7 linked regions of the Homo sapiens genome follow. The protein of the gene in region 1 interacts with the protein of each later gene in a pairwise test. Each region holds a gene or a part of one and is shown in the gene's direction. Other genes may lie near its edges.

Region 1 (3,500 bases):
TCACCAATCAACAGTTCTTCCCAAGTTTGAAGTACAAGTAACAGTGCCAAAGATAATCACCATCTTGGAAGAAGAGATGAATGTATCAGTGTGTGGCCTGTGAGTTCATTTTTTAAAAATCTTTTGTGGGGGATTATTTAAAAGAGACTCACCATTTGGGATATTTTAACTACTCTCTCCGGGAGCAGTGGCAACACAAAAATTTTAAGTGCTTTGACAGCATCCTCATCTGTAGAATGTTATTCTCCTGTTGCTTTTCTATTTTTATTTTCTTTCACGTTCTTATCAGTATTATTCTATCATGAGGTAAGAAACTGTTTCTAGAGAGGTTATGCTAATAGGATTGATTCTGAAAGTGACAAAACTGCACACACACACACACACAAAATGGGAAGGGTGGATAGTGTTGAAGGGTATTGGTTCTGCCTTAACCAAAAATAACCAAACGTATATTAGGGAGATAATTAACACATGGCTATAGGGGAAATTCAATCATCAACAGATCATTTACCTGACCTTGCATGCTTACTGGAAAAATCACTTAGATTCAGAATTTGTAGAGATAGGCATACAACTGAAATCTCATCTAACTCACTAGTCCACCTAAGGCGGGTCTACATACCTGTCTGCACTGACATTTTTACGAAGAGACTGAACGTGATTTCTCAAGACAGTCTGTTCCAACCTTGAAAAGTCTTGTTTCCTGGATCTTATGTTCCCATCCATGGTGGCACACAGTAGCAGTAGCAGGAAGAGCAGGTATAGTCCTGTCCAAAGATCACACATGTAATACACCTACTATTCAGCTAGGCCCCTGCTCCAGTTCTGTCTCACAGTGATGGCCAAGTTCCTGGTTCCTCATAACTGGTGTGATCTTGCAAATAGACATACAGAGGACATTCTCAAATAGGAAAGGAGACAAATGCACTTGGAAACCCAGCAATTGTCTATGACATATTTACGACACAATCCCACTTTTGTAAAAAAGTAAACAGGCCCGGCGTGGTGGCTCACGCCTGTAATCCCAGCACTTTGGGAGGCTGAGGTGGGCAGATCACGAGGTCAGGAGATCAAGACCATCCTGGCTAACATGGTGAAACCCCGTCTCTACTAAAAAATACAAAAAATTAGCCAGGCATGGTGGCCAGCGCCTGTAGTCCCAGCTACTTGGGAAGCTGAGGCAGGAGAATGGCATGAACCCAGGAGGTGGAGGTTGCAGTGAGCCAAGATCGCACCACTGCACTCCAGCCTGGGCGACAGAGCGAGACTCCATCTCAAAAATAAAATAAAATAAAATAAAATAAAATAAAATAAAATAAACAAGTGAAACTCGATATAGAGATGGCTGCACATGGGGAGAGGATGATGGAAGAAGAGACACTATCGTACTAATAGTTTGTATTCCTAGGTAGACTTGAGGGCGTTTGGGTTTTTTTTGTTCTGTTTTGTTTTGTTTGTTTCGTCTTGCTGGTATTGTTTCTCTTTTAAGAACGGGTTTAAGTTTTATAATAAGAAAGACTTTTTTAAGATAAAACTAAAAAAAAACGAGGAAAAAAAAGAAATGATAAAAGAAGAATGTAAATTTCAGCATGTTGCAATGGAGATTTCTATAAGAGCCATTAGTGACTCTTGTCTTCAATATTGTGTGAGCCCAGCAGAGAGCAGAGGGAAGTACAGACAGGGAATATACTGTAGCTAAAGGGGAGATATAAATAGCTAGAAAATGGGGAGGTTCAGTGTCTGCTCTGATTCCTTTGGGAATGTTCTCATGACAGATACACATATGGGAAGCCTGTCCCTGGACATGTGACTGTGAGCATTTGCAGAAAGTATAGTGACGCTTCCGACTGCCACGGTGAAGATTCACAGGCTTTCTGTGAGAAATTCAGTGGACAGGTAGGTTGAACACTATTTTTTCTAGAGAATAGCGATAAAGGCATTGTTGAAAAGCAGTGAGTTGCAGCATTTTTCTGACGCAGGAAGAGAACAATCTAGAAGAGAATTCCATGTTGGCTATTGTAATTTTTCAAAAAAAATCATGAACTTAGCACAATGGGAATTATTTATTTCTCGTAATTGCCCATTGTGAGTGTTTCAGAACGATAGACACTGAGCCATCTAAAGCCTCCATGGGCATTCACTTCTACAAAGGAAGGAAAAAACCATACACCTCTTAATTGCCTTAGCTGGCCAGGCCATCAGTTCTGCTCTCTCTGTGAACAAGAACCTATCACATGGCCCCACCAAGATGCCAGAGAGTTGACAAACACAGTCCCCATATAGAAGGCCGCTTCCCAGCCACAGCTGAATATTATGGAGGAGGAACCAGACTTTGATGAGGAGTTCTAATGGTCAAGAGCAGATGTACTGTGTATTTCAAAATAGCAAGTGGACAGGACTTGAACTATTTCCAACACATAGAAATGATACATACTTGAGTTGGTAGGCACCCTAAATCCCGCGATGTGATCATTACACATTCTCTGCATGTAACAAAATATCTCGTGTACCCCATAAATATGTATAAATATTATGCATCCTTTGTACAAAAAAAATTACTCCTCAAATTTTAAGACATTTCTATCGCAATATATCTAGGGAATTTCAGATACCAAGGAATACATCTGTCAATTATACATGAGATATTGTTGTGAAATTTAATATTTAGTTGCTAGAGAATATTTATTGTGTCCTCGTCATAGAAAATGCCTACATGATGTTGTCCCCCCACAAAAATCACACCGGTTATCTGACCACTGATCTATTTAGTATAATATGCATTATATTTTTGTATTTTATTTTCTCCCTTCTTAGCTAAACAGCCATGGCTGCTTCTATCAGCAAGTAAAAACCAAGGTCTTCCAGCTGAAGAGGAAGGAGTATGAAATGAAACTTCACACTGAGGCCCAGATCCAAGAAGAAGGAACAGGTTTGTGTACTACATGGGTATAAGAGAAAACACAACAGGCATTGATTTTCTTAGCCAAATAATGAATTGTAAGTTGGGGGGAGGTGATAGAATTTTAGAGACATCATTCTTCCCAAAAATAACAGATTTTTTTCTCTTTTTTCAGTGGTGGAATTGACTGGAAGGCAGTCCAGTGAAATCACAAGAACCATAACCAAACTCTCATTTGTGAAAGTGGACTCACACTTTCGACAGGGAATTCCCTTCTTTGGGCAGGTGGAGTATTTTCCAGTTCACTCATCAACCCATGTACTGTTACCTAATTAGCACAATAGTTATGGTTTGTGCTAAAACCATGCCTGGTTAATGTTATCATTTAATATAACCAAAAGTATAAAATATCACCAAGGCTTGATTAGTATAACCAAAGGTATAAAACTACATAAAAATAGATTTATTCTTCTGTAAATTTGTGTATGAAATGTATGTAATTATCCTAAGGCCTTATTAAAATTAGTAGAGTTTTCCCCCCTTCTTTTGAAACAGCATTGTACAAGTCACTCAATCTCCTTCTCATGGTTTACCAGGCAGT
Region 2 (4,114 bases), on another chromosome or scaffold:
TCCTGGCCTCAAGCAATCCTCCCGCCTCAGCCTCCCAAGAAGCTGGAATCACAGGTGCGAGCCACCCCACACAACTAAATTTGGAATTATGAATATGGCTGAGGTCCAGAAATATTTAAATTTGGCATGATGACTAAGAGTTTGTTATAGGAGCTCAATCATTTGATAAATATTGAACATTTCCTATGTGTCAGATTGTTTTTCCCACTAGGGATGCAGAGGAGAACAAGACAGAATAGGTTCTTGTCCTCATAGAGTGTGGGAGACAGGCAGAAGACATATAATTTCAGGTAGGTATAAGTATCATAAAGAAAAAATAAAGCAAAACAAGAGAGTGCTGGGAAAGGCCAGGGAGCAGAGAGGATGACAGAGCTGTCTTAGGGTGTTCAAGACCTCTTTGAAAAGCTGATATTTGAGCAGAAGACCACAGCAAGGAAAAGTGGCAGAGACTGCTAGCTGCCTACGCATGAAATGATGGGGGAAGGAGCAATACAGAAGGCATGTAACATTTGAGAGTCTATTAGGCATCCCAAGGGAGGTGCTGCGGAGGCGGATGCATGGAGGCGGATGCGGAGGCGGATGCATGGAGGCGGATGCATGGAGGCAGATGGATGCACACGTCTAGAGTTTAAAAGGAGATCTGAGGCGGAGATACGAACTTGGGAGCTGTTAGTCCAGTTCCAGGTTCCAATTCAACGTACTTTTATCAGAGCTCACTGTGCGCCAGGGACTTGCTAGGAGATAAATGGGGTTTATCTCACCGGAGATAAATGTGGTTGCACAGCAGATGGACACACCAGCCAATGTGGTAAATAAACCCTTGGGTCCAGCTACGTTCTGCGCGCTCTCTGCCAGCACAGAGGAGCAGCGAGTCAGGGTACGGAGCGGGTAGCGTTGGGGAAGAGGTGGCCGCGAAGCGAGACAGGCCAGCGGAACGGAAAACGGAAGCACGAGACGGGGGCGTGACGCACCGGGCGCATCACAAAGAACGGCGAGAGGGCGGTGGCGCCGGGGGCACGGCTGGGCGGCTCCGCCCAGAAGAGGGCCGAGAGGCGGGGCGGTGCCCCCACCGCAGGCCCGCGGCGCCCTCTGCAGGCCACAGGCAGCGACTCACCAGTTGCCTCATCTTTCCTCTCCTCCCTCTTGGGGCTTTCCTCAGGCCACATTTTTTGTGTGTCTGGGCAGTCTCTCAGCCTCCGACTCCCGTCCCTTTCTTCCACTTCCAGGCCGGGCGTGTTAGTGTCTTCGCGGGAAAACTGCCAATAAAGTTTTTCTTCTTCTCGCTCCCAAGATCCCCGCCTCCCCTTAAGCACCGCGAGATCTGACGGCGCGGCTACCATGGCGGCGGCATTTGAAGCCTCGGGAGCCTTAGCAGCAGTGGCGACTGCTATGCCGGCTGAGCATGTGGCCGTGCAGGTCCCGGCCCCAGAGCCAACACCCGGGCCTGTGAGGATCCTGCGGACCGCTCAGGATCTCAGCAGCCCGCGGACCCGCACGGGGGATGTGCTGTTGGCGGAGCCGGCCGACTTCGAGTCACTGCTGCTTTCGCGGCCGGTGCTGGAGGGGCTGCGGGCGGCCGGCTTCGAGAGGCCCTCGCCGGTGCAGCTCAAGGCCATCCCGTTGGGGCGCTGCGGGCTCGGTGAGAGCGGGGGCCCGGGATAGGTCGGGGGGTGGGGTGGGAGAAGGGGGACCGACGGGCGGCGGCGGCCAGGCCCGCGCCGCAGCTCAGGAAGAGCCCTCGGTCGGCCCCCGGAGCAGGGCCCTGCCGGGGGCTAGGCGCTACGCTCAGTTAACTTATTTGTAAAACTAACGTGCACTATTGAACTTGAGGATAGTTAAGACCTTTTTTTAAGCACTGACAAATGGTTCTAAGTTTGAGAAGATAAACGGTAAACGTTCAGGGACTAGGCGTGTTCTCATACGTTTTTGAGAATCAACTAAAAATGAAGGTGCCAACTAGGGGAATCTCAGGAGACCCTTCTAGTTCTCTGATTCCATGTTAGCCCCTAAGTTGCTTCAGTGAGTACTGGCTAGTGATAATTGTTTTTTTCCTTCGCAGATTTAATTGTTCAAGCTAAATCTGGCACCGGGAAAACCTGTGTGTTCTCCACCATAGCTTTGGACTCTCTTGTTCTTGAAAACTTAAGTACCCAGGTGAGTTAGCTGAGAGGACCAGAGGAGGATGTGTTTTGTGGACTTTACCACAGGTCAGATGAAATACCAGTAGCTCCTCAGAGCTGGAAGTGAATTTGATGAATGATTGAGTTAAGTGGTGGTGGTGGCGAAATTTGGAATTTTCTATGCGTACCTTATTTAAATAGAATAAAGCTACCATATATGTCAATTTTGTCACTACTTGGTAATACAGACAGGGATTCTTCTTTTACTTACTGACTAGATTAATGTGAGACTTAACATTTGACTTGATTCATGGTAATGTAGTGCTCTGGCTATTGTTGGTAACTGCAGAGTTTGTTTTTTTTTTTTGAGACGGTGTCGCTTTGTCACCTAGGCTGGAGTGCAGTGGCGGATCATTGCTCACTGCAACCTTGAACTTCTGGGCTCCAGTGATCCTCCCACCCATCTTCCTAAGTATTTGGGACTACAGGTGTGTGCCACCACACCTGGCTAGTTCTTGTATTTTTTGTAGAGATGGGGTCTCCAGTGTTGCACAGACCAGCCTTGAACTCCTGGGTTCAAGCAATCCTCCCACCTTTGCCTCCCAAAGTACTGGGATTACAGGCATGAGCCACCACAGCCGGTATGCAGGTGGTTCTTAAAGCTCTGTAAATGTATCATATTGATCTCCCATCTTCCAGGTTGTCTTAGAGTGTTTCTAAGATTGCCTTACCCAAATTAGCAGGAAATTTGAGTTTGGGGATCATTTCTCCAACAAAGGTTTGTTGAGTCCGTATTACGTATAAACAGTGTGCCAGGCATTGGGGATTCAAAGATGAATTAGATGTGATTCTCATAGCCTTACTTGGTAGTTTAGTTGTTATGGCAGACTGTATTTCAAGTTCTCAGGCATTGGTATATCTGATGATGAATCTTCAACAGTGGTTTTTAACCCAGATATCCATGTTCATCACCTGGGAAGCTTTTTGAGTCCATCTTATGTCTACCAAATCCTAGGTGATGTTGCACATTGGAAATCCTCCTACTTCCCAAGAACCTGAGTTAGTCTAATTGTAGACTAAGATGTATTTGAGATTTTGGCTTCTGACAATTTGGCAGCAGATAAAATGCTGAAATCCTGGAAAAGTTTCATCAACTCATTTTTTTTTGAGACCGAGTCTCACTCTGTTGCCCAGGCTGGAGTCAGTGGCACAATCTTGGCTCACTGCAACCTCTGCCTCCCAGGTTCAAGTGATTCTCCTGCCTCAGCCTCCCGAGTAGCTGGGATTACAAGTGTGCACACCACACGCCCGGCTAATTTTTTTGTATTTTTAGTAGAGACGGTGTTTCGCCATGTCGGCCAGGCTGGTCTCAAACTCCTGACCTCAGGTAATCCACCTGCCTCAGCCTCCCAACATGCTGGGATCACAAGTGTGAGCCACCATGCCCGGCAAATTCATATTTTTAATTTCAGATCTTTGGATTATGAAAATTACATTATTCTCTGTGTGTGTATCAAAGTAATACATATTCATTTTTAGAAATAGGGAAAATTCAGAAAAATTAGGACGTACCAGAAAACAAAATCTGTAATCTTACTACCTAGAGAGAAACTGCTATTAACAGTTTTGGCATGTTTTCTCCTAGTCCTTTTTTTTTTTTTTTTTTTAAATCAATTTTTTTTTCTTGTAGTTAAGAGCACAAAGTTTTGTTTTCTCCTCCTCCAGTAGTTACATTGCAAAGTTTTTACCATGACTCTCAAGGTCTTTTGTGATCTAGTCCCTGGAGGTAGATCTCTGACCTCCTTTACTTTCCCCTGAATTCTGTCATGTGGGCCTTCTTTTTCTTCCTCAAATACACCAAGAACACTGCCATCTTATGGCCTTTCCATTTGCTGTTTCCTCTTGGTGAAAACGCTTCCCCAGGGGTCATATAGCCAGCTCTACTCTATGCCATTCACGTAGGTCTCTGCTCAAAGTACCTCCTTTGAGGAGGT
Region 3 (4,013 bases), on another chromosome or scaffold:
AAAGCAGGTAAGAGGACTCAATAGATGCATCTGCATGGAAAACATCCTCCCCTCTACCAGGCACCTGTATGTACAACCAATCACAGCAGCACACATACACCCAGAAATGGGCACGTGTGGGCCCACACCCCTTTAGCTATGAAACCCAGGCATGGGGCAGCTTGAGCCAGATACCTTGTGCAAACACAAACTCGTGCTGTCTTCTCTGAACTCCATTGTGAAAATCAAACACTTGTCAGCCCCTCAAGAGCCTTTAGATTTCCTACTTCCACACTTCCACAGAAAGGCCTCTGGAGTTGGGGGATGCTGGGGTTATGTAGGAAATTAAGCCTGGAGGGCCTTGCTGGGGAAGCCATTGTCCCTGTACCTGAGATGGATGCAGCCACAGCCCTGGAGCCAGCCTGAAGCTCCTGGTGTCTTCTGGGGGCTACATATAGGAGTGTAGTCCGAACCTCAGAGGGGCAAACCTGCTCTGCAGAGGGAATCAAGGTTCACATAACCAGAGAGGGGAGTCACTCAGGAAGGTGGCTCCAGAGCCAAGAGTCAGACTCTGGGTCCCGACTTGACCCAGCCACACCCCCTCTGAAGCTTGCTGAGAGTGGCTGCAGTCTCGCTGCTGGATGTGCACATGGTGGTCATTCCCTCTGCTCACAGGGGCAGGGGTCCCCCCTTACTGGACTGAGGTTGCCCCCTGCTCCAGGTCCTGGGTGGGAGCCCATGTGAACTGTCAGTGGGGCAGGTCTGTGAGAGCTCCCCTCACACTCAAGTCTCTCACAGTGGCCAGAGAAGAGGAAGGCTGGAGTCAGAATGAGGCACCAGGGCGGGCATAGCCTGCCCAAAGGCCCCTGGGATTACAGGCAGGATGGGGAGCCCTATCTAAGTGTCTCCCACGCCCCACCCCAGCCATTCCAGGCCAGGAAGTCCAAACTGTGCCCCTCAGAGGGAGGGGGCAGCCTCAGGCCCATTCAGACTGCCCAGGGAGGGCTGGAGAGCCCTCAGGAAGGCGGGTGGGTGGGCTGTCGGTTCTTGGAAAGGTTCATTAATGAAAACCCCCAAGCCTGACCACCTAGGGAAAAGGCTCACCGTTCCCATGTGTGGCTGATAAGGGCCAGGAGATTCCACAGTTCAGGTAGTTCCCCCGCCTCCCTGGCATTTTGTGGTCACCATTAATCATTTCCTCTGTGTATTTAAGAGCTCTTTTGCCAGTGAGCCCAGTACACAGAGAGAAAGGCTAAAGTTCTCTGGAGGATGTGGCTGCAGAGCCTGCTGCTCTTGGGCACTGTGGCCTGCAGCATCTCTGCACCCGCCCGCTCGCCCAGCCCCAGCACGCAGCCCTGGGAGCATGTGAATGCCATCCAGGAGGCCCGGCGTCTCCTGAACCTGAGTAGAGACACTGCTGCTGAGATGGTAAGTGAGAGAATGTGGGCCTGTGCCTAGGCCACCCAGCTGGCCCCTGACTGGCCACGCCTGTCAGCTTGATAACATGACATTTTCCTTTTCTACAGAATGAAACAGTAGAAGTCATCTCAGAAATGTTTGACCTCCAGGTAAGATGCTTCTCTCTGACATAGCTTTCCAGAAGCCCCTGCCCTGGGGTGGAGGTGGGGACTCCATTTTAGATGGCACCACACAGGGTTGTCCACTTTCTCTCCAGTCAGCTGGCTGCAGGAGGAGGGGGTAGCAACTGGGTGCTCAAGAGGCTGCTGGCCGTGCCCCTATGGCAGTCACATGAGCTCCTTTATCAGCTGAGCGGCCATGGGCAGACCTAGCATTCAATGGCCAGGAGTCACCAGGGGACAGGTGGTAAAGTGGGGGTCACTTCATGAGACAGGAGCTGTGGGTTTGGGGCGCTCACTGTGCCCCGAGACCAAGTCCTGTTGAGACAGTGCTGACTACAGAGAGGCACAGAGGGGTTTCAGGAACAACCCTTGCCCACCCAGCAGGTCCAGGTGAGGCCCCACCCCCCTCTCCCTGAATGATGGGGTGAGAGTCACCTCCTTCCCTAAGGCTGGGCTCCTCTCCAGGTGCCGCTGAGGGTGGCCTGGGCGGGGCAGTGAGAAGGGCAGGTTCGTGCCTGCCATGGACAGGGCAGGGTCTATGACTGGACCCAGCCTGTGCCCCTCCCAAGCCCTACTCCTGGGGGCTGGGGGCAGCAGCAAAAAGGAGTGGTGGAGAGTTCTTGTACCACTGTGGGCACTTGGCCACTGCTCACCGACGAACGACATTTTCCACAGGAGCCGACCTGCCTACAGACCCGCCTGGAGCTGTACAAGCAGGGCCTGCGGGGCAGCCTCACCAAGCTCAAGGGCCCCTTGACCATGATGGCCAGCCACTACAAGCAGCACTGCCCTCCAACCCCGGTGAGTGCCTACGGCAGGGCCTCCAGCAGGAATGTCTTAATCTAGGGGGTGGGGTCGACATGGGGAGAGATCTATGGCTGTGGCTGTTCAGGACCCCAGGGGGTTTCTGTGCCAACAGTTATGTAATGATTAGCCCTCCAGAGAGGAGGCAGACAGCCCATTTCATCCCAAGGAGTCAGAGCCACAGAGCGCTGAAGCCCACAGTGCTCCCCAGCAGGAGCTGCTCCTATCCTGGTCATTATTGTCATTATGGTTAATGAGGTCAGAGGTGAGGGCAAACCCAAGGAAACTTGGGGCCTGCCCAAGGCCCAGAGGAAGTGCCCAGGCCCAAGTGCCACCTTCTGGCAGGACTTTCCTCTGGCCCCACATGGGGTGCTTGAATTGCAGAGGATCAAGGAAGGGAGGCTACTTGGAATGGACAAGGACCTCAGGCACTCCTTCCTGCGGGAAGGGAGCAAAGTTTGTGGCCTTGACTCCACTCCTTCTGGGTGCCCAGAGACGACCTCAGCCCAGCTGCCCTGCTCTGCCCTGGGACCAAAAAGGCAGGCGTTTGACTGCCCAGAAGGCCAACCTCAGGCTGGCACTTAAGTCAGGCCCTTGACTCTGGCTGCCACTGGCAGAGCTATGCACTCCTTGGGGAACACGTGGGTGGCAGCAGCGTCACCTGACCCAGGTCAGTGGGTGTGTCCTGGAGTGGGCCTCCTGGCCTCTGAGTTCTAAGAGGCAGTAGAGAAACATGCTGGTGCTTCCTTCCCCCACGTTACCCACTTGCCTGGACTCAAGTGTTTTTTATTTTTCTTTTTTTAAAGGAAACTTCCTGTGCAACCCAGATTATCACCTTTGAAAGTTTCAAAGAGAACCTGAAGGACTTTCTGCTTGTCATCCCCTTTGACTGCTGGGAGCCAGTCCAGGAGTGAGACCGGCCAGATGAGGCTGGCCAAGCCGGGGAGCTGCTCTCTCATGAAACAAGAGCTAGAAACTCAGGATGGTCATCTTGGAGGGACCAAGGGGTGGGCCACAGCCATGGTGGGAGTGGCCTGGACCTGCCCTGGGCCACACTGACCCTGATACAGGCATGGCAGAAGAATGGGAATATTTTATACTGACAGAAATCAGTAATATTTATATATTTATATTTTTAAAATATTTATTTATTTATTTATTTAAGTTCATATTCCATATTTATTCAAGATGTTTTACCGTAATAATTATTATTAAAAATATGCTTCTACTTGTCCAGTGTTCTAGTTTGTTTTTAACCATGAGCAAATGCCAGTGGTGCCTGCCTTCCCATGAGGCAGGGGAGGGAGGAAACGGGGAGGTGGAGAGGGGGCGGGGGCCTCCCAGGCGTTGGGCACTATCCAAGGGCCAACACTGTCAGAGCAGAGGGGAGGTGAGAGCCGGGCATAGGTGCGGAATTCTGCACACCTGGACGGGCTTCCCGGGATGCTCCAGGGCTCCCACCCCAGAGAATGGCTCTCAAGTTCACCTGGAAGTCCAAGTGACCAGCCCAGGGAACTCTTATCCCAGAGAAGGGCACCACCCTTCCTGGGGAGGCCTGGGGGTTGGCTGGTCACTGGCTGAACAGGCCCACTCTGGCATCAGGCAAAACACCTGCCCTGTAGAGGCCTTGGCCCCTGTGCCCCACGCCCT
Region 4 (3,500 bases), on another chromosome or scaffold:
CCTTTGCTTTTTTATTGCTCCCCTGAGAGGAGCCTTTCAAGCCTTTTTTTTTTTTTTTTTTTTTGAGACAGAGTCTCACTCTATCGCCCAGGCTGGAGTGCAGTGGTGCGATCTTGGCTCACTGCAAACTCCGCCTCCCAGGTTCACGCCATTCTCCTTCCTCAGCCTCCCGAGTATCTGGGACTACAGGTGCCCGCCACCGCGCCTGGCTAGTTTTTTGTATTTTTAGTAGAGACGGGGTTTCACCGTGTTAGCCAGGATGGTCTGGATCTCCTGACCTCGTGATCCACCCGCCGCAGCCTCTCAAAGTGCTGGGATTACAGGCGTGAGCCACCGTGCGCGGCCTCAAGACATTTTTTTCCTCATTGTATCCCTCCCCCTGTGCCCCTTCCCCAGGAAATCAAGTCCTAAGGAATAAGAGTTTGTTGGACAGAGTTGAGCCTTGGAGGGACACAAAACATTGTAATATCTAAGATTTTTTTCATACTCTCCCAGAAAGAACCAATTTTCACCCTGGGGTGGCGGGGTGGTAAAATTGCCCCTGTTCAGAATACATGCTCTAATAAGCGGCAGCCATGGGATTTTATCCTAATACTGAGTCTAGATGCCAAATCTTTTTCACCCTGTTCACAACTTAGGCAGCTAGAATGGGTCTTGCATTTGTAGTAATCACTGGTGTAGCCTCCTAGGGCAAATAACAATGTATTCCAAGCGTACTTATTCAGTGGATATTTATTGTGTTTCTACTAGGTAGCAGTATCAGGAACTGTTGTAGATACCAAGGTTAAAGTAGCGAATAAGATGTGAGCTCATGGGGTTTACATTCTAATGAAGGGAGACAATAAGAGAGGATGATGCAGTAAAGCAACTAAGTGGCTACTTTAGATCGGTTGGTCATGAAAGGCCCCTGAAGAGGCAAAATTGAAGCCGAGATCTGAATGACAAGTCAAGTCAACCATGCAAAGATTGGGGAAAGCATTTCAGGCCAAGGAACAGCTAGCACAAAGGCTCTAAGGTAGAAACATGCACAACATGTTGAAGAATAGGAAAGAGGCCCCTGTGACAAAAGCATTCTAGAGGGTGGGGGTTGATATGAGGTTAGAGAGGCAGATGGGGATTAGATCTCATAGGACCATGTCCTTTAGGTAGATGAGATTCAAAGTATAATGGGGAGTCACTGGAGGATTTTCAGCAGGGTCATGACATGCTGTGGTTTATATTTTCGAAAGATAATTTTGGGCTGGATACAGTGGTTTACACCTGTAATCTCCAGCACTTTGGGAGGCCGAGGTGGGCGGACTGCTTCAGCCCAGCCATTTGAGGCTGGCCTGGGCAACATGGCAAAACCCCATCTCTACAAAAAAAAAATTAAAAAAATTAACCACGCGTGGTGGCACGCGCCTATAGTGCCAGCTACTTGGGAGGATTGCCTGAGCCTGGGAGGCAGAGATGGCACCACTGCTCTCCAGCCTAAGTGACAGAGTGAGACCCTGTCTCAAAACAAACAACAACAACAGCAAAAAGATCACTTTGGCTGTTTTTATTTTTGGCTGTTATGTGAAGAATGAATTGCAATGGGGCAAGAGTAGAAGCACCAGGAGAAAAGCAAATGAGTTTTGAATAAATATTTTCCCCTATCTTCTACCCCCTAACACGTTTGGGGATGAATGTAGAAGAGTGATAGTGTTGGCATGGCTAGAAATAGGCAATTGAAGTAAGAGAATTATTCTTGCTTCTCTGCACATTTGCCATCTACTGGCATTTTCTACTGAGGCTTCTCCCTACATTATATTGAGATCTTGTCTCACTTCTTGGTCTGACCAGAAAGTTTGACCTTTCCACAGGATCAGGAGAAAAGCTGGTCCTTGCAGATCTGCTTGAGCCTGTTAAAACTTCATCTTCTTTGGCCACTGTGAAAAAGCAACTGAGTAGAGTCAAATCAAAGAAGACAGTGGAGTTACCTCTGAACAAAGAAGAGATTGAACGGGTAAGCTACAGAGAAGGTGGTCTATTAAGGGAAAGAAATTGAATTGACAAGGGAAAATAGGGTAATAGAAAGAAGGGAAAGACCTGAAAAATGGGAGAAGGGGGAGTTGTGATTTCCCCACTATGGATAAGATTAAAAATAATCTAGGAGTGCCAGGCGCGGTGGCTCACGTCTGTAATCCCAGCACTTTGGGAGGCTGAGGTAGGCGGATCACCTGAGGTCAGGAGTTCGAGACCAGCCTGTCCAACATGGTGAAACCCCGTCTCTACTAAAAATACAAAATTAGCCGGGTGTGGTGTAATCCCAGCTACTTGGGAGGCTGAGGCAGGAGAATCCCTTGAACCAGGACGTGGAGGTTGCAGTGAGCTGAGATTGCACCATTGCTCTCCAGCCTGGGCAACACGAGTGAAACTCCATCTAAATAATAATAATAATCTAGGAGAAATTGCAGTCCTGAGAAGCAAGAGGACTAGCATCCTGATTCTTTCATCCTGATTCTAGCATCCTGATTCTTTCTTGGGCTAAGAAATGTTGCTTCCTAATTTCTTGTTAGTCCTTTGGGTTTGATGCTTTAATCTTGTGGCTCTTTCCGTTTACATGCCTTGCCTGCTTCAGATCCACAGAGAAGTAGCATTCAATAAAACCGCACAAGTCCTCTCCAAATGGGACCCTGTCGTCCTGAAGAACCGGCAGGCAGAGCAGCTGGTTTTTCCCCTGGAGAAAGAGGAGCCAGCCATTGCTCCCATTGAACATGTGCTCAGTGGCTGGAAGGTGAGTACAACAAAATGAAACTGAAAGGTGAGATTTTATAAGTTGGAGATTTCAGAGCCTGCAATTGATTTGATTGGACATGTTAAGCTAAACCCCAGCATAAGTCATTTTAGCTTAGTGCTCAGAAAGAAGGGGTTGCCCATCGTCATTGTCAGTCATGTGATAGCCAGTCACAATAGCTCTGTGATCACTTTTTTTTTTTTTTTCTTGAGACAGGGTCTTGCTCTGTCGCCCAGGCTGGAGTGCAGTGGCACGATCTCAGCTCACTGCAACCTCTGCCTCCTGGGTTCAAGCAATTCTCCTGCCTCAGCCTCCCAAGTAGCTGGGATTACTGGCGTGCACCAACACGCCCAGCTAATTTTTTTTTTTTTGGATTTTTAGTAGAGATGGGGTTTCACCATGTTGGCCAGGCTGATCTCAAACTCCTGACCTCAAATGATCCGCCCACCTCAGTCTCCCAAAAGTTTTGTGATTACGGGCATGAGCCAATGCGCCCGGTCTCTGTGTCACTTTTCATCTGCTTGTAGTATACAGTACTTGCTATTTCCATGTTTTTGTGTTAAACCATGTGATTGCCCGTATAGCAGGAACATAATAATGTTTTCTTTCTTTTACCCCAGTTTTTAAAAAGCATTTAAAGCCACATTCTGATCCTAGGGAAATCAGGAACTCGATAACATTAATGATGCCTTAGTGAGGATATGTGAACAACAGAAGCCAAACTTTGCTTGTACAGGAATAC
Region 5 (2,366 bases), on another chromosome or scaffold:
TTTGGGTCATCAGCTTACAAACAGCATTTAATGCCATGAGACTAAAAAATGATGATGGATAAAAATGAGACTCAGTCTAAAATCTTCCAATATTTACAGGTGGGGGAGATAAGGAGTAGCCAGGAAAAAGAAAATAGTGATAAAGGAAGAGCCAAAAAGGTAAGAGAAAAAAAACAGGAGAAATACTTTTCTTCAAAGTGTCTCAAGAAATGATTGTGTTAAGTGCTGATGGGTTAAAATCATCAAGTCCTATTGCTTCTAGTTTCAAAAATATATCCTGATGGTTCCCATTTACTCCATCTCTATCATTAAAGTCTCTTCTGTGAACTACTCCCACCCCCTCCCCAGGAAACTATTCTCTATATAGAAAGCAACAACATCTTTTAAAAATATAAATCAGGGCCAGGCATGGTGGCTTATGCCTGTAATCTTAGCACTCTGGGAGGACAAGGCGAACAGATGGCTTGAGCCCAGGAGTTCAAGACCGGCCTGGACAACATAGGGACACCCCTGTATCAGTTTAAAATTTTTTTAAATTACATATCAAAATGAAAAAATATATACAAATCATGTCAATATCCTATTTATCTTTTAACTGTCTTCTACTGCACCTAGAATAAAATCTAAACTCCTTCCTTTGGCCCACAAGTCCTTTATGATGTGGTCCATGCCTACCTTTCTACTTCATTCTTCCCATGTTACTCCTCTCATTCCTTTCTATCTACATTCACTTTGTTCTTATGCAATAACTCTGTTCCTAAAACATATCAGTCTCATTCACTGCCTTGGCAACCCAACTCCTAGACCTACAATACACTCCCTCGGCTCTTCATCTGCCTGGCTTCTCAACATTCAGTCTCACATCTCAAATATCTGCTTAGAGACCCTGCCTGATTATTGTATCAAAACCTAAAATTATCCCGTTTATCTTTTAAATTGTATATTGTCCTTCTCACCCTAAATTATAAATTCCTCAAGGACAGAAAATGTTAAATATATATTACAGCATTTAAAACTTATATACATATAAGACTTCAATGACTATTTCACAAAATACCAGTCCTTTAAAACCAAAGGAATATTACCAGGACATTGGTTTAACCTTTTACCCAAAACAGGCATCATTTCTGTAACATGCCTGCCTGGAGTCATCATTCCAGAACATCTTGAAAATGTCCAGTGATGGCAAACTCAGCACCTCATGAAGCAGCTCATTTCATCTTGGGAAAGCAATATTTGTTTGAAAAGTCTTCTTTATATTGAATCAAACCTCTTTCCATGTAATTTCCACCCACTGCCCTTTGGAGTTATGCCAAGTAAGTCTAATCTCACTTGCATACACAGACCTTTGTTTAGAAGACAGCTGTATACACACCCTACATCTTCTCTTTTACAGGACAAATATTACCATTTATTTCAATGAGTCTCCATTTGGTATGGTTTTCCAATCTCATCCTTTCCATGCTAGTCTGGTAATTCCTAACTTAAGAACTTCCATCTCAAAATATGCTCAGAAGTTTATTGAGTTCCCCTTACCCTTGCAATTTGCTCTGAATAGCATAGAGTTGGCAGAGTTTAGTCTATCCATACATCAGACTATTATTTATAAAAGCATAGTGACTATTCTGATGGTTCTGACAGAAAGCTTAATTAGGCTGGGAGCGGTGGCTCACACCTGTAATCCCAGCACTTTGGGAGGCCAAGGTGGGCGGATCACGAGGTCAGGAGTTTGAGACCAGCCTGGCCAATATGGTGAAACCCTGTCTCTACCAAAAATACAAAAATTAGCCGGGCATGGTGGCAGGCACCTGTAATCCCAGCTACTCAGGAGGCTGAGGCAGGAGAATCACTTAAACCCGGGAGGCAGAAGTTGCAGTGAGCTGAGGTCGCACCACTGCATGCCAGCCGGGGCATCAGAGCAAGACTCCATCTCCAAAAAAAAAAAAAAGAAAGCTTAATTAATTAAAATCTCCAATACTTTCATAGACACTATTGTGAACCCAAGGGTCTTCTACTCTGTAGATACGAAAATATTTTTCTTATAGCTAGATGAAATATTTTAAATCTATTCCTGTTAAATATATTTTTGTTATTTTTAGTATAAAGTTCCACACTATTTTAATATTTGAATCCCTACCCTGTACTTCAACATACTAAAGATTCCTCCAAATTTTACACCATCTACACATTTGTTAAGTATGCCTCCTATGACAACATCCAGATTAATAGAAATATTTCCATAAACATATCAAACACTGAGTCCTACAGCATAACAGCATCACATTCAGAGACCTTTTTTTTCTGGTTGATATTAATATTATATGTGGTCCAATGAGCTATCTGTACTCCCTAACAGCCTCTTCTTA
Region 6 (3,500 bases), on another chromosome or scaffold:
ATTGGAAGTTCTGTTTCTTTATTCATTATTCTATGGAGAAGAGCCTTCTCAGGTATTTGGCATCTGGAAGAAAAAAATATGCAGACTCAGGGAAAGAAGAAGGATATATGGAAGTAATGATGTCTTCAGAAAATCTTGTTCCTTTTGTAAAAGTTCCTATTAGTGTGAGCATTCATTCATTCATTTAACAAATATTTATTGAGTGGGTCAGGCATAATACTAGATATTGGGGATGGGAGACAGCTGTTAATTAAATAATCCCATGAGTAATAATAAAATAACAACTGTGATAAGTACTATAACTGAAAGTATAGGGTATGATGATAGCATATAAATGGAGAACATAATCTAGACTGGGGGAGGGGTGTTCTCTGAAGAAGTCACATTAAAAATTGAGAATTGAAGGATAAGTAACTTATCCAAGTGAACTGGGTGAGTGGGGATATGAAGGAGGTAGCCTGGAGAAGAATGTTCTAGGAATAGAAAAGAGTATCTGGAAAAGTCCTGAGATGGAAAGTTAGCTGCTATGTTAAACAGAGAAAAGGCCAATAAAGCTGGAACATGCTAAGCAAGATGATATTGATGAGGTGGATATGGGCTCACTGTAACCTCATACTCTTGGGCTCAAGAGATCTTCCCACCTCAGCCTCCTGAGTATCTGGGACTAGTTTGCCACACATGGCTAATTATTTTATTTTTGGAGAGACTGGGTCTCACTATGTTGCCCAGTCTTGAACTCCTGTTCCAAGCAATCCTCCCAGCTTGGCCTCTATAAGTGTTGGAATTACAGGTATGAGCCACTGTGCCCAGCCAAGACTATCTTAAGGTGCAATAATAATTATGGACCATGGGATCCAAGCTAGATAAGAGAGGACATGAAGGTAGAAGTTCCTGAATAGAAATGGAGGGATCGGTGAATAGGAGGTTTCAATGAGATCCAATAATTGTTGCAATAGGAGTATCTGAGTGAGCCTGGTGCATAAAAAGTTATTTTGGAGATGATACAATTGCTGGGGGTGATAAAATCCTAGGTGAGACTATAGGAATGAATCAATAAATGTGGAAATCACTAGAAATGAGGAGAATGAGGAACTGAGAAGCCAGGATGTCAAATAGTTTAACTGTGAGGATGTTGAGGTAACCCAAGGAAAAAGCTGCAAGTGTAACAGTGGCATTCCCCCAGTTCTGATTTCTAGGTAAGGACAGTTCTTCCAGCCTCCCAATACCCCCAGTCTAACAGTACCACTTGGCAGCTTTTGGATTACCAATCTAGGAGGGTATTATCTTTCATTCTAGAATGTTTGACTAACTCCACAGTCTTATTTAATATGGCATTGGTTACCATCTCAGTACTGCAATAGGAAACTGGAGGTCACTTTTGCCTATTTCATCCTGAACTATTAAATTAGTTGGAAAAGGAGTAAGTCTCCCAAAGGACTCATTTTAGTATGACTGAATTTGATATTCAGTAGCCATTTGTATGCATTTTTCTGTGATGGTATTTACCAAGTGTGTGAGTGTTGGTGGTGTGGGCCCCCATCCCCAAGCACTAGTCTCTGCAATAACCATGGTGATAATCATGGAGGTTTCCAGGAAAACAAGCTACATCTGCAGCAACATGTGTCCATGGAGTTTCTAAAGCTGCATCAGTTCCTGCACAGCAAAGAAAAGGACATTTTAACTGAGCTCCGGGAAGAGGGGAAAGCCTTGAATGAGGAGATGGAGTTGAATCTGAGCCAGCTTCAGGAGCAATGTCTCTTAGCCAAGGATATGTTGGTGAGCATTCAGGCAAAGACGGAACAACAGAACTCCTTCGACTTTCTCAAAGTGAGAATCCACACCAATATGATTATGGGTACCTTCCTACCTAGAGGGGGGAAGAGGTTTGGAAAGAATGCGGAAGTGGCTTTTCACATCCAGGGAAAACAAAACAAAACAAAACAAAACTGTTATAGTGCTTTTAAGATTCTCTGGAAGAAAAGGAGGAGGCTGCTTCAGCTATACGCACAGCAGAAAGCTTTACTTTCATCCTCTTAGGAAATACGATTTTTAAATTCCATTAATAATAGTATATAGTAATGGTTTAATATTTTTCCATAAAGAGCTTGATGCTTTATTTCTCAAAAATAAAAATGTTGCAGCCTGAGTTGTATCTTTGGCTCTCAGCAATCATAAGCTGACCTGTCTGAAAAGCTGTTTTCTAACCTTTGCTTTCTTAAGCTTCACCTCTAAAGAAGCGTTGGTTACCATCTCAGCACTCAGAAGTTTAATTAGCTAGAGTAAGGAAAAGTGGCCTTGGGACTGGGATACCTAATGTGTTTTTCTTCTGAGACTATTTGAAAGTATAGGTAAAGATAGCTTAACCTTAAGTATTGTCTTATTGGCTTCTGTCTTGCTCCCTGTAGAAGAGAACTCTAGAAAGAGCAAAAGATCAATTTAACCTGGGTTAGGATCAGGGATGAAGATTAGAAAAAGTGTATGAAGGATGAAAGAAGTTGGTAGAGATGAGTTCGGGACCATCTGCACAAATTCTGGTGGTGGCTGGTATCACCAAAGAAATTTTGAGAGTTGATGAACGGGCATCTGATGTCTCTCTTTCTCCTTTCTTCTAGGACATCACAACTCTCTTACATAGGTAAGTGTTTCCCTATGGTACTATTAATATCATTCCTTGAGTCTCTGGAGGATGTCTAAGGATAAATGATTTATGTGCCCTGCAGCTTGGAGCAAGGAATGAAGGTGCTGGCAACCAGAGAGCTTATTTCCAGAAAGCTGAACCTGGGCCAGTACAAAGGTCCTATCCAGTACATGGTATGGAGGGAAATGCAGGACACTCTCTGCCCAGGTATCAGTGGGTAGTAACTATTGGTTCTTGAGGCTCCTAATCTACGTTTAATCTGTGGGACTTCTTCTGTGGCCCTAATTAAGTTTTTACAGTCTGGGATAGGGAAGGGGTACAGTTTGGCCAAAAGGAGGCTAGTTGGTATGACTGAATTTCTTCTAGTACCATGACCTAAGAATTTATGACTTTGTGCTGGTAAATAGATATGAGTTTGATATCAGGATTACTTCTTAGCATATGATTTTGACTGATTTATGAAATGTGGCAACAGCCAAAATTTTATCTTGTTTTGCTAAATCAGCTATATGAATCCCAGGGGCTTCTCTGAAGAAGGAGGAGGTTTCTGAACATACTCTTTTTATGTACACTGGGTCTTTACAGTTTCTTTTGTGCTTGATGTTCATAGCGTAGAACATTTTAGAAGATTGTTTAGATCTTCAGTGCTTCAGAAGAAAACCAATAATTTAAATAAACATACCTAAGAAGGACACTAAGTTTTTGTGTTCCTGTAGATACCAAAGGACTGAGCAAGATAAAATAACACACATGGCATTTCAAGAACATCAAATAAAGTTCTAAATAAAAATCTTTATAGAAATAAAATTCTAAATAGAGTTTTTATAGAATTCATAGACTCATCATTATTATTATTGTTTAT
Region 7 (3,500 bases), on another chromosome or scaffold:
GGCCACCGAGGAGCTTGCCTCATTTGCTGTGCTACGTTTGTACTTAGATTGTCTCTTTAGTCTCCATGGAAGGGAGGTGTTCTTACCCTGACTTTGTAGGTGAGAAACTGATTCTCAGGGTTAGTTCTGTGACCTGTGTGATACTGGAACAAGGATTTGAGGTGGTGCCTGGCTATCTGTGAGCCAGGCCTGACTACTCTGTTATACTGCTTTTCTTGCAATTCCAAGCATGCCAGGAAACTCAATCCCATTGAACACCAGGAGAATATGGCATTGAGTCCTGAAGAGCTATATGCTAACAAAGTTATTTGTCACCACTCGTGAGTTTTGTTGTTTAAGAAGAGGGAAGGAGTAGATTCACCCACTGCCTGCGTGAGGAGCATGGTTGTTTGTTGTGAAATGGGTCACTGTCTGTTATAGCTGATGAGATCATTATGACTTTCAGACATGTCAAGGATAAGAACATCATAGAACTGGTTCATCAGGTTTCCATGGGCATGAAGTACTTGGAGGAGAGCAATTTTGTGCACAGAGATCTGGCTGCAAGAAATGTGTTGCTAGTTACCCAACATTACGCCAAGATCAGTGATTTCGGACTTTCCAAAGCACTGCGTGCTGATGAAAACTACTACAAGGTAAGTACAACTTAGCTAATATTCAGAGCAGCAGGTGGTAAAAAATGCAAGATAAATGTACGTTTTCTTTATTTTATTATTGGTATGGTTTCAAAAAGCAGTTTTGCTACTGAAAAATAACTATGTAAGATATGTTCTTATAATCTTTGATTTTACTGTTTAAAAAATAAAAATAATATCACACCTTGAGATTTACTCAAAGTAGTATATTCTAAATTATGTTTCATGGAATGATCAGGAATCGAGGTATTAAGTGAAGATTTGTTTTGAAAAAAGAAGAATGGGATTCCTTCATTAAGTTAATTTGAAAAGTTTGCATTGGACAGCTTGATTCTTGCAGGATTTCCCCGAAGCCCTTTTCATGCTACTTAACATTACGAATCTCAGTAGAGGGTTTACTGCACTGCATTTCTCAAACCAGATTCATCCATGGCATCCTTTTCTGATAGGACATTTCATAACATGTGGTGGAACACTGTCCCACAGCATGGAGCTATTGGAGCTTGGAGCTCCAGTACTGCAGTTCAGAGCTCCAATATTGCAGCTTGGAGCTATTCCAAAATAACTTTCTAATGAACACCTACCTATACATGCAAAAGTTAGAAAGTGAAGATTTACCAAATAAACTCGTCATCTGTGTATGTCCACTACATATGTAGAAATTGTTCTATTGGCTTAACTGGTATCCAGAAGAGTTGAAGTGTCAAAAAATAGATGCAGTGCTGGAAAGAAGAGATCTAGATAGTTATGTGACTGAAGCTAAAAGAAATATGCCCCTTGGTTTGGTGAGGCAGAGATTATCAAGAATTAAGGGTGGACTTCCAGCAAAACATAAAGTAGAAACTAGTTCTGGGTGCAGGTTTGGACTTCCTAAAAAATAATTTCACAGTGACCAATCCCCTTGCTAATATAACTTGACCCCTCTCTGAACCCTCAAATGAACCAATAACAACTAAAAGAAGAAAAGATAAGAAAGCTCTATCTTCATATTAACTCATCTGTGGTGTATACCTAGGGTCTATGTTAACCAACTGGAAAACGTGATGGCACCAATCCCACTGAGTCAAAGAGGGTGCCGAAGGCAGGTTAACAACCCTGCTAGTCTCTGGTGAAGTCCACATGCTCAGAAATAGATGGCAGACCTTCAAAATCTACCTAGTGGGTGGCAGATAGGATCCTGTGTTTCATGCCCTGCAGTGGTCAGAGACCCCACCCTGAGTGACAATACCCACCCACTCACCTTTCCCTAAGAGGCAGTCCATGGACTGGTAGGTGATGGGGAATGGTGGACCTCGGCCAGCAAAGGGACTGCATGAAGGGTAAGCCACAAGAGCCAAGCTCCCAGGCAGGCAGGCAGACTCCACCATCTTGAGCACAAAGGCCAGGCGAGAGTACAGCAGGGGTCAGGCTGGCCCTCCTCACCCCATTCTTCATACAGTAGCTTCCCAGAAGGAAGCCCCTTCAGAGGTGAACCACTGTGAGAAAGGCATCAGCATGGGCCTGGATAGAAATAGCAGGGAAACAGAGCAAGGAAGACAGCAGCCTAGGATGACCAGCATGGGACATGCTGGAGAAAGAAGCCTGTTGTAATGCTGGATGTACCTCATCATGATCATTACAGAAAAGAAGACAGCCTGTCTGAAACAAGGACACAGAGGAGATAGAGAAAATGAAACATGAATGCTGGGCACCTTATCCACTGCTGTATAACAAATCACCCCAAACTTACTGCCAAAAACACCACCAGGTGTTGGTTTCCCTGCCGTCCTGCTGTGTGGGCAGGGCCAGGTAGGCAGGGTTCAGTGCGTCTGCTCACACAGGGGATTGCACAGTGGCCCGAGGGACAGGAGGACCGTTTCCACTCTGCTCACTCACACTACTCAGCCACTGAGCAGCTGGTTAGACACAGCCCATGCTGGAGACCTCTGCGGGGCTGTCAGCCAGCTCACCTGCACATGGCCTCTCCTTGGGGCCCTTGGGCTTCCCTTGGGCCCATGCTTCCCTTGGGCAGCATGGCAGCTGCGGGCTGAGAGCAGTTACCCAAGAGGCAGGAAGTGGGGGCTGCCAGGCCTATAAAACCAGGCCCAGAAACTACCTCAGGGTCACTTCCACCTGATCCTATTGGTCAGAGCAGCCAAGGCCACCAGCTTCAAAGGATGGGATAGATAGAACCACCCTTTTGAGGAGAAGTGTCAAAGAGTCAAAGAACATGGGGCCAATTCTAAAACTGCTGTAGATATTAAACAGCATACCATTAAAAAGTAAACTAAACTAAAAAGTAAACCAAAGATTGTCTTTGGACAATCAATGAAGAAAAAAAGCCACTAGGGAAATAAAAGCCATCTTGGAAGCAGCAAAAAGAGACAAAACTACCGAAAAGATAGGGTAGTGGAAGATTTCTGTATGAAAACAAAGCAAAGTGAAATGGAAAAGAATAAAAAGTGGGCCGGGCGTGGTGGCTCACGCCTGTAATCCCAGCACTTTGGGAGGCTGAGGTGGGTGGATTACCTGAGGTCAGGAGTTCGAGACCAGCCTGGCCAACATGGTGAAATCCCGTCTCTACTAAAAACACAAAAATTAGCCAGGCATGGTGGCAGGCACCTGTAATCCCAGCTACTCTGGTGGCTGAGGCAGGAGAATTGCTTGAGCCCGGGAGGTGGAGGTTGCAGTGAGCTGAGATCGTGCCACTGCACTCTAGCCTGGCCAACAGAGCAAGACTCTGTCTCAAAAAAAAAAAGGAATAAAAAGTGAAACAAGATCAAAGAAAAGTGCTAGCTGTGGAAGCAAACGAACGCTGGCACTCGGGAAACCATGCGTGACAGGGTAGATTTGTGCAGCATCACAACTGAAAAACACAGGTGTTCT

The links.
Region 2: the proteins of A2M (region 1) and DDX20 interact in binary tests that used the Homo sapiens proteins (3 or more experiments, as listed by UniProt).
Region 3: the proteins of A2M (region 1) and CSF2 interact in binary tests that used the Homo sapiens proteins (3 or more experiments, as listed by UniProt).
Region 4: the proteins of A2M (region 1) and UTP14A interact in binary tests that used the Homo sapiens proteins (3 or more experiments, as listed by UniProt).
Region 5: the proteins of A2M (region 1) and STX19 interact in binary tests that used the Homo sapiens proteins (3 or more experiments, as listed by UniProt).
Region 6: the proteins of A2M (region 1) and TRIM69 interact in binary tests that used the Homo sapiens proteins (3 or more experiments, as listed by UniProt).
Region 7: the proteins of A2M (region 1) and SYK interact in binary tests that used the Homo sapiens proteins (3 or more experiments, as listed by UniProt).

The regions. Positions count from the first base shown.
Region 1 is NC_000012.12:9,105,920-9,109,419, reverse strand, and holds part of A2M (alpha-2-macroglobulin isoform a precursor), read left to right. Parts: intron 1-14; coding exon 15-99; intron 100-1,775; coding exon 1,776-1,896; intron 1,897-2,814; coding exon 2,815-2,929; intron 2,930-3,074; coding exon 3,075-3,184; intron 3,185-3,500. UniProt on the Homo sapiens protein: Is able to inhibit all four classes of proteinases by a unique 'trapping' mechanism. This protein has a peptide stretch, called the 'bait region' which contains specific cleavage sites for different proteinases.
Region 2 is NC_000001.11:111,754,587-111,758,700, forward strand, and holds the start of DDX20 (probable ATP-dependent RNA helicase DDX20), read left to right. Parts: upstream 1-1,314; 5' UTR 1,315-1,338; coding exon 1,339-1,639; intron 1,640-2,059; coding exon 2,060-2,154; intron 2,155-4,114.
Region 3 is NC_000005.10:132,072,576-132,076,588, forward strand, and holds CSF2 (granulocyte-macrophage colony-stimulating factor precursor), read left to right. Parts: upstream 1-1,213; 5' UTR 1,214-1,248; coding exon 1,249-1,407; intron 1,408-1,505; coding exon 1,506-1,547; intron 1,548-2,234; coding exon 2,235-2,360; intron 2,361-3,169; coding exon 3,170-3,277; 3' UTR 3,278-3,595; downstream 3,596-4,013. UniProt on the Homo sapiens protein: Cytokine that stimulates the growth and differentiation of hematopoietic precursor cells from various lineages, including granulocytes, macrophages, eosinophils and erythrocytes.
Region 4 is NC_000023.11:129,909,164-129,912,663, forward strand, and holds part of UTP14A (U3 small nucleolar RNA-associated protein 14 homolog A), read left to right. Parts: intron 1-1,844; coding exon 1,845-1,987; intron 1,988-2,602; coding exon 2,603-2,758; intron 2,759-3,415; exon of another isoform or gene 3,416-3,500. UniProt on the Homo sapiens protein: May be required for ribosome biogenesis.
Region 5 is NC_000003.12:94,016,232-94,018,597, reverse strand, and holds part of STX19 (syntaxin-19), read left to right. Parts: intron 1-99; exon of another isoform or gene 100-159; intron 160-2,366. UniProt on the Homo sapiens protein: Plays a role in endosomal trafficking of the epidermal growth factor receptor (EGFR).
Region 6 is NC_000015.10:44,757,028-44,760,527, forward strand, and holds part of TRIM69 (E3 ubiquitin-protein ligase TRIM69), read left to right. Parts: intron 1-1,585; exon of another isoform or gene 1,586-1,593; coding exon 1,594-1,827; intron 1,828-2,612; coding exon 2,613-2,635; intron 2,636-2,720; coding exon 2,721-2,845; intron 2,846-3,500.
Region 7 is NC_000009.12:90,878,319-90,881,818, forward strand, and holds part of SYK (tyrosine-protein kinase SYK), read left to right. Parts: intron 1-445; coding exon 446-635; intron 636-3,500. UniProt on the Homo sapiens protein: Non-receptor tyrosine kinase which mediates signal transduction downstream of a variety of transmembrane receptors including classical immunoreceptors like the B-cell receptor (BCR).